Homo sapiens: one gene and its partner. The protein of the gene in region 2 interacts with the protein of the main gene of each other region in a pairwise test. Each region holds a gene or a part of one and is shown on either strand. Other genes may lie near its edges.

Evidence for each region. The genes of interacting proteins can lie anywhere in the genome.
Region 1: the proteins of EBP (region 2) and SFXN3 interact in binary tests that used the Homo sapiens proteins (3 or more experiments, as listed by UniProt).

The regions. Positions count from the first base shown.
Region 1 is NC_000010.11:101,037,614-101,041,269, forward strand, and holds the end of SFXN3 (sideroflexin-3), read left to right. Parts: coding exon of another isoform or gene 1-160; exon of another isoform or gene 161-757; intron 758-1,029; coding exon 1,030-1,079; intron 1,080-1,561; coding exon 1,562-1,609; intron 1,610-1,875; coding exon 1,876-1,972; 3' UTR 1,973-3,628; downstream 3,629-3,656. UniProt on the Homo sapiens protein: Mitochondrial serine transporter that mediates transport of serine into mitochondria, an important step of the one-carbon metabolism pathway.
Region 2 is NC_000023.11:48,527,012-48,529,372, forward strand, and holds the end of EBP (3-beta-hydroxysteroid-Delta(8),Delta(7)-isomerase), read left to right. Parts: coding exon 1-14; intron 15-143; coding exon 144-274; intron 275-1,222; coding exon 1,223-1,446; 3' UTR 1,447-1,705; downstream 1,706-2,361. UniProt on the Homo sapiens protein: Isomerase that catalyzes the conversion of Delta(8)-sterols to their corresponding Delta(7)-isomers a catalytic step in the postlanosterol biosynthesis of cholesterol.

The DNA of each region.
Region 1 (3,656 bases), on a different chromosome or scaffold from region 2:
CTGCAGGGGCAGGAGGAGAGGACAAAGGAAGGAAACCAACTTCATCAGTGTTACTCCAGTGGCTTCTGACACACAGAAGGGGACTGTCATAGTCATGCTTGATCTCATGCTCATTCTTTTACCCCCTAGTGCCTCCATACTGAGAGGTACACACGGGTGAACACGCACACACAGACATGAACAGGACACGAAAGCAAAGCACAGGAACAAGCTCTGGCTCATTCACAGAATCATTTATTCACAAATGTATTGAGTGCCATGCACCAGGCATGTTTTAGGGCTGAGGAGATGGCACTGAACACAATGGTTATGGCCCCTGTCCTCATGAAGTTTATAGTCTGATGCAGAAACCAATAAACAAGGAGGCACCCAATAAATACATTCTTAGAAAGTGTAATATGTGCTTTGTAGGAAAGCAATGGGGGTAGTGTAATTGAGATTCATGGGGGAGAGCTGTTTAGATAGGATGATCAGAGAAGGGGTCTTTAATGCCGCAAAGGATGAGGAGAGAGCCAAATAACGCAGAGAAGAGTGTTTGGGGTACAGAAAACAGTCAGTGCAAGGGCACTGCAGTAGGAGGGGCTTGCACATTTGAGGAACAGGTTGGTGGTCCCTGTGGCCAGAGCAAATTGAGAAGAGTGCCGAGGAAGAGATGTGCTTGGAAAGGGTCAGATTCATGCCACTGGGATGGGAAGAGGTAAGTGGAGGTTCACAGGAGGTTTCCTGAAGAAATCAGCTCCTGGAGGAAGTGAGGGAAGAAAAAAAAGGGCCAGGGAGTGCCATGGCAACCAATTCTGAGAGGTGAGAGGTCATGGGATGCCGGGGAGGGTGATCAGCAGACAGGCCTGGCTGGAGTGGAAGGGCGTGATCTGGAGGTCCCAGCCCTGTCATTGCCTTGGGAGAAAGAAAACGGCCACAGGTCTAAGGGCTCCAAGGCAAGGCTGATGGGATAGAGCTATGGTGGGTGAAATGGGGTGACAGTGAGGCAGGGGACACAAGCCGTTCCATTGTCTTTCTGTCTCTCCACAGCGCCGCCCCTGGCTGGGGGCACCCCTGCAGGTGGGACTGGTGGGCTTCTGGTAAGTGTGCAAGGAGTTAGCTGGGGTGTGTGGGAGTGCCTTGTCCATGGTGGATGTGGGTGGGTATGGATTGTCTTTAAGATGTTTATAGACATCATCCATTCATACATTCAGTGGGTGTGTGTTTGGAACAACTATAGGGTCTACTTTGTGTGTTACGGGGTGGTCCCTGTCCTTGAAGGTCAAGATCCTAGTGAGGGGGTTCCAGTCTTCATCTATAAGAGGAAACCATGGAAATGTACCTTTTGGTGCCATCCAGGAGATTCATGCCCATTTAATTCCTGATTCTGCCACTTACTGGTTGTGGGGCTCTCTTTCCTCAGAACCTGATGTCCAGGTTGGGTTTACTATTCCTAAAAGGTCCTTTCAGCTTTTATCAATCTCCACCCCTAGGGCCTATCTCCAAGGATGGGGTGGGGTGCAGGGAGGGAACACCCTAAGGCCAAAGCTTTACAAACCTTTCCAACACTTGTCTCCCCCAGCCTGGTATTTGCAACCCCCCTGTGCTGTGCCCTATTCCCCCAGAAGAGGTAAGTGCTGTCCCTGGGCTGGGTGGGGGACTCTGGATTGGACTCTGCATCTCTGGACCAGCTGACCTAGGGTCTTCCAGGGTGTTCAGGAGGAGGCCTGGCAGGCACTCCACTGATTCTGGGAGTGGGGGAATGACAGTGAGCCAGTCCTTCTGGCAGTAGAAGGAGAGGATTTTTCAGCCTGGGAGGAGGTGGGATGGCAATCCCTGGGCCTGAGTGGGGTTGGATTCAGGGGACGTTAACTGGCCTGTGCTGTTCTATTGCAGCTCCATACACATAAGCAACCTGGAACCAGAGCTGAGAGCTCAGATCCATGAGCAAAACCCCAGCGTTGAAGTGGTCTACTACAACAAGGGGCTTTGAGGAGGGTCAGCCTCTGTCCCCTCCCTCACTTCCTTGGGCTGCTGCTTTAGTGGAGTCATGTCACCCCTACCACTTGGCTATCTGCCTAGCACTGGGCAGGGGCCTTGGTGGGCAGATGGCAATTGAGGGTAGCAACCTATTAGGGTGGGGGAGGGACCTCCATAAGGCTTTTCCTCCCTTCTCTGGTTTCAAAGATCAGAGCACATAACCCCTCCTGTGCTTGAGTGTCCATGCATATACATACATGATACACATGTGTATGTGTACATTGGGTCCTGAAAGCTAGAAGCAGGCATGCTAGCCTAGTATGTTCTGACATCTGGCTTCCCTTCTCAGCCTCATGTCCACCTGCCTGCCAGCCAGGCTACAGGTGTGACTTCCTTCTCTAAACTGTTACACCAGCCAAGTTATTTTTGATGGCACCTCATCCCTTCTAGAAATAGGAGGAGCCCCAGGATCTCAGGACAGAGACTTATAGACACTAGTAGGACAAAGCGGGCTGAATCCTTCAGGTTTCTGATACCTAGCTCCCCAAGCTGACTGGGCTGGCAGAGGAGAACATGTTGAGACAAGGGAGGCAGGGGACTTATGCATCCCTCAGTGCCATCCCTTGTATCCTGGAATAGCTCCATTTCCCCTCCTCCTCTCTACCAGACAAAGGAGTGCCTGTGTCCTGTACTGCCCTCGCTGTCTCCCCCACCACCCTACTTGACAGCGTGGGCATCTTCAGGCACAGCCTTGGGAGTTCCTGGTGTGCTCTGACATCATGACCTCAAATCTAAATCCTCCAATCCCAACTCCCTTTCCCAAACAAAAAGCCACAGAGGCAGAGCAAGCATTCCCCTTTAAGAGCTTCCACTGCACCCCCTCCCAAGGGACACAGCGGTAGGAATGGTGCTTAAACTCCACAGGTATCAGAGAGGGTGTAACTAGGACATCCTCAAGGGCAGCTAGGCCCCGAATGTACAATGTTAAGACAGGGAATTTTGTGTTCCATTGACTTTTTTTTTTTTTTTTAATGGAGTTTCACTATTTTGCCCAGGCTGGAGTGCGATGGTGCGATCTTGGCTCACTGCAACCTCTGCCTCCTGGGTTCAAGTGATTCTCTTGCCTCAGTCTCCCGAGTAGTGGAAATTACAGGTGTGTGCTACCACATCTTGCTAGTTTTGTATTTTTAGCAGAGATGGGGGTTTCACCATGTTGGCCAGGCTAGTCTCGAACTCCTGACCTCAGGTGATCCACCTGCCTTGGCCTCCCAAAGCACTGGGATTACAAGCATGAGCCACTGTGCCCAGCCTGTTCCACTGACATTTCTTAGACATTCAGCAAAACCCCCACCTTAACCTCTTTTCTTTCTTGAGGGTTGGTCCTGTCCCCACCTCCACCCTCCCACCCCCTGGAAGAGGAAGGGCCCGGGCATCAGTGGCTAGTCCAAATAAAATATGGGCTTGGGGATGGAATGGGTGGTGGTAAGTTCACAGAGTGTAGTTAGATCCCAACTCCCATGACCTCTGGCTTCAGTGGTGGGTGGGGCAGGGCAGATGAAAGGGCTTCAGTGGGAACCTCTGAGAGCATTTTCCTGTTCCCCCTATCAACCGCCCCCAGTGATAACATCTGTGAAGCCAGCCATTACTCAATAAACTGCAAACTTGTCTACTTCTTGGTCTTCACTTGATTCCACGTC
Region 2 (2,361 bases):
AGCCGATACATCCTGTAAGTGTTTGCCTCTGTCAATGGAGACTGGCATTGGTTTTCGGGGGGTGGTGAGTTGGGGAGCACTAATGGGCTAACCTGTAGGAAGAGCACACCGATACCAGTGTCCCCTCATGCTTTCTCCTGCAGGGGTGACAACTTCACAGTGTGCATGGAAACCATCACAGCTTGCCTGTGGGGACCACTCAGCCTGTGGGTGGTGATCGCCTTTCTCCGCCAGCATCCCCTCCGCTTCATTCTACAGCTTGTGGTCTCTGTGGGTAAGGAAAGGGCACTAGAGGGGCACTGGGCACTAGAGGGGTTGATGGGGGATCCACAGACACAGATGTATCCCTGTGGGTGGGATCTCTCAACGGTGCCCTTCCAGGGGTAAGTCAGACTGAATGACAAACCCCCTGAGGCTCTGGAAAGGTCATGCCCTTCTCTGAGCCTGCACTCTCAGGTGGGGAGGGTTCATTTTTCTTCCTCCTCCTCCTTCTCCATCACAAAGTCTCCTGTGAAGGTTACATGAGGTGGCCCAGGGTGGCAAGAAGCCCCTGGAACCTCCAGGATCAGGGCTCTGAGATCCCTTCATGTAAGATTCTGTCATATTTTTTTTAAAACAGGGTCTGGCTCTGTCACCCAGGCCAGAGTGCTATGGTGTGATCTCGGCTCACTGCAACCTCCACCTCCCAGACTCAAGCGATCTTCCTGCCTCAGTCTCCTGAGTAGCTGGGACTACAGGCATGTGCCACCGTGCCTGGCTAACTTTTGTATTTTTAGTAGAGATGGGGTTTCGCCATGTTGCCCAGGCTGGTCTCAAGCTCCTGAGCTCAAACAGTCCTCCTGGCTTGGCCTCCCGAAGTACTGGGATTACAGGTGTGAGCCACTGTGCCCGGCCTCAGTCATCTTGTGTTATTAAATTGTTAGCTTTCTTTAGTTCTAGCGATATGAGTTATCTTTAGTCCCAGAATCCTAAGCTGTCTTGGATTTGAGGATTTTGAACTTCCTTAAATCTGAAGGTGTGAGCTCTCCTGAGTTCTGAAATTCTCAGCTCTCTGGTGTCTGGAATCTCACTTTTCTGATTTCTCAGATTTTCAGCTCTGTGATTTCAGAATACTTAGCTCTGAGACCTTGAATGATGACTTGGAAAGTGCTTTGGAATAGAGAATTGGCGAAAGTGTCCCCTTCCTCACTGGGGCTTCTCCTTCCCCTCCTGCCACCCACAGGCCAGATCTATGGGGATGTGCTCTACTTCCTGACAGAGCACCGCGACGGATTCCAGCACGGAGAGCTGGGCCACCCTCTCTACTTCTGGTTTTACTTTGTCTTCATGAATGCCCTGTGGCTGGTGCTGCCTGGAGTCCTTGTGCTTGATGCTGTGAAGCACCTCACTCATGCCCAGAGCACGCTGGATGCCAAGGCCACAAAAGCCAAGAGCAAGAAGAACTGAGGAGTGGTGGACCAGGCTCGAACACTGGCCGAGGAGGAGCTCTCTGCCTGCCAGAAGAGTCTAGTCCTGCTCCCACAGTTTGGAGGGACAAAGCTAATTGATCTGTCACACTCAGGCTCATGGGCAGGCACAAGAAGGGGAATAAAGGGGCTGTGTGAAGGCACTGCTGGGAGCCATTAGAACACAGATACAAGAGAAGCCAGGAGGTCTATGATGGTGACGATTTTTAAAATCAGGAAATAAAAGATCTTGACTCTAACACTGAGAGATCCTTAATTACTAACCCCAGAGATGCGCTATGACTGACCCCACAGATCCCACCATCATTCACTTATTCCAGACCCCCATCAGCATCTAAAGACCTCCCACCTCTGACCTCACAAACCCCTATCACTGACCCCCCGCCAGACCCCATAACTCACTACACAGACCCTATCACTGGCCCCACAGTCCCCTGGTCTTAACTCGAGCTGCCATAACAGAATGCCACAGACTAGGCTTAAACCACCGAAGTTCATTTTCTCACAGTTCTGGAGTCCAAGATCAAGGTGTCAGCAGGTTTGACTTCTCCTGAGGCCCCTGTCCGTAGCTTGCAGGTGGCCACCTTCTCAGTGTCCTCACATGGTCTCTATGAACTAGCGTCCCTGTCCCTGGTGTCTCTCTGTGTGTCCAAATTTCCTTTTTTTTTTTTTTTTTTTGAGACAGGGCCTCGCTCTGTGTCAGGCTGGAGTGCAGTGGTATGATCATGGTTCACTGCAGCCTCTACCTCCCTGGCTCCAGCGATCCTCCTGCCTCAGCCTCCTAAGTAGCTGGGACTACAGGTGTGCACTACCACACATGGCTATATTTATTTTTTTTTATAGCAATGGACTCTCACTATGTTGCCCAGGCTGGTCTCAAACACCTGGGCTCAAG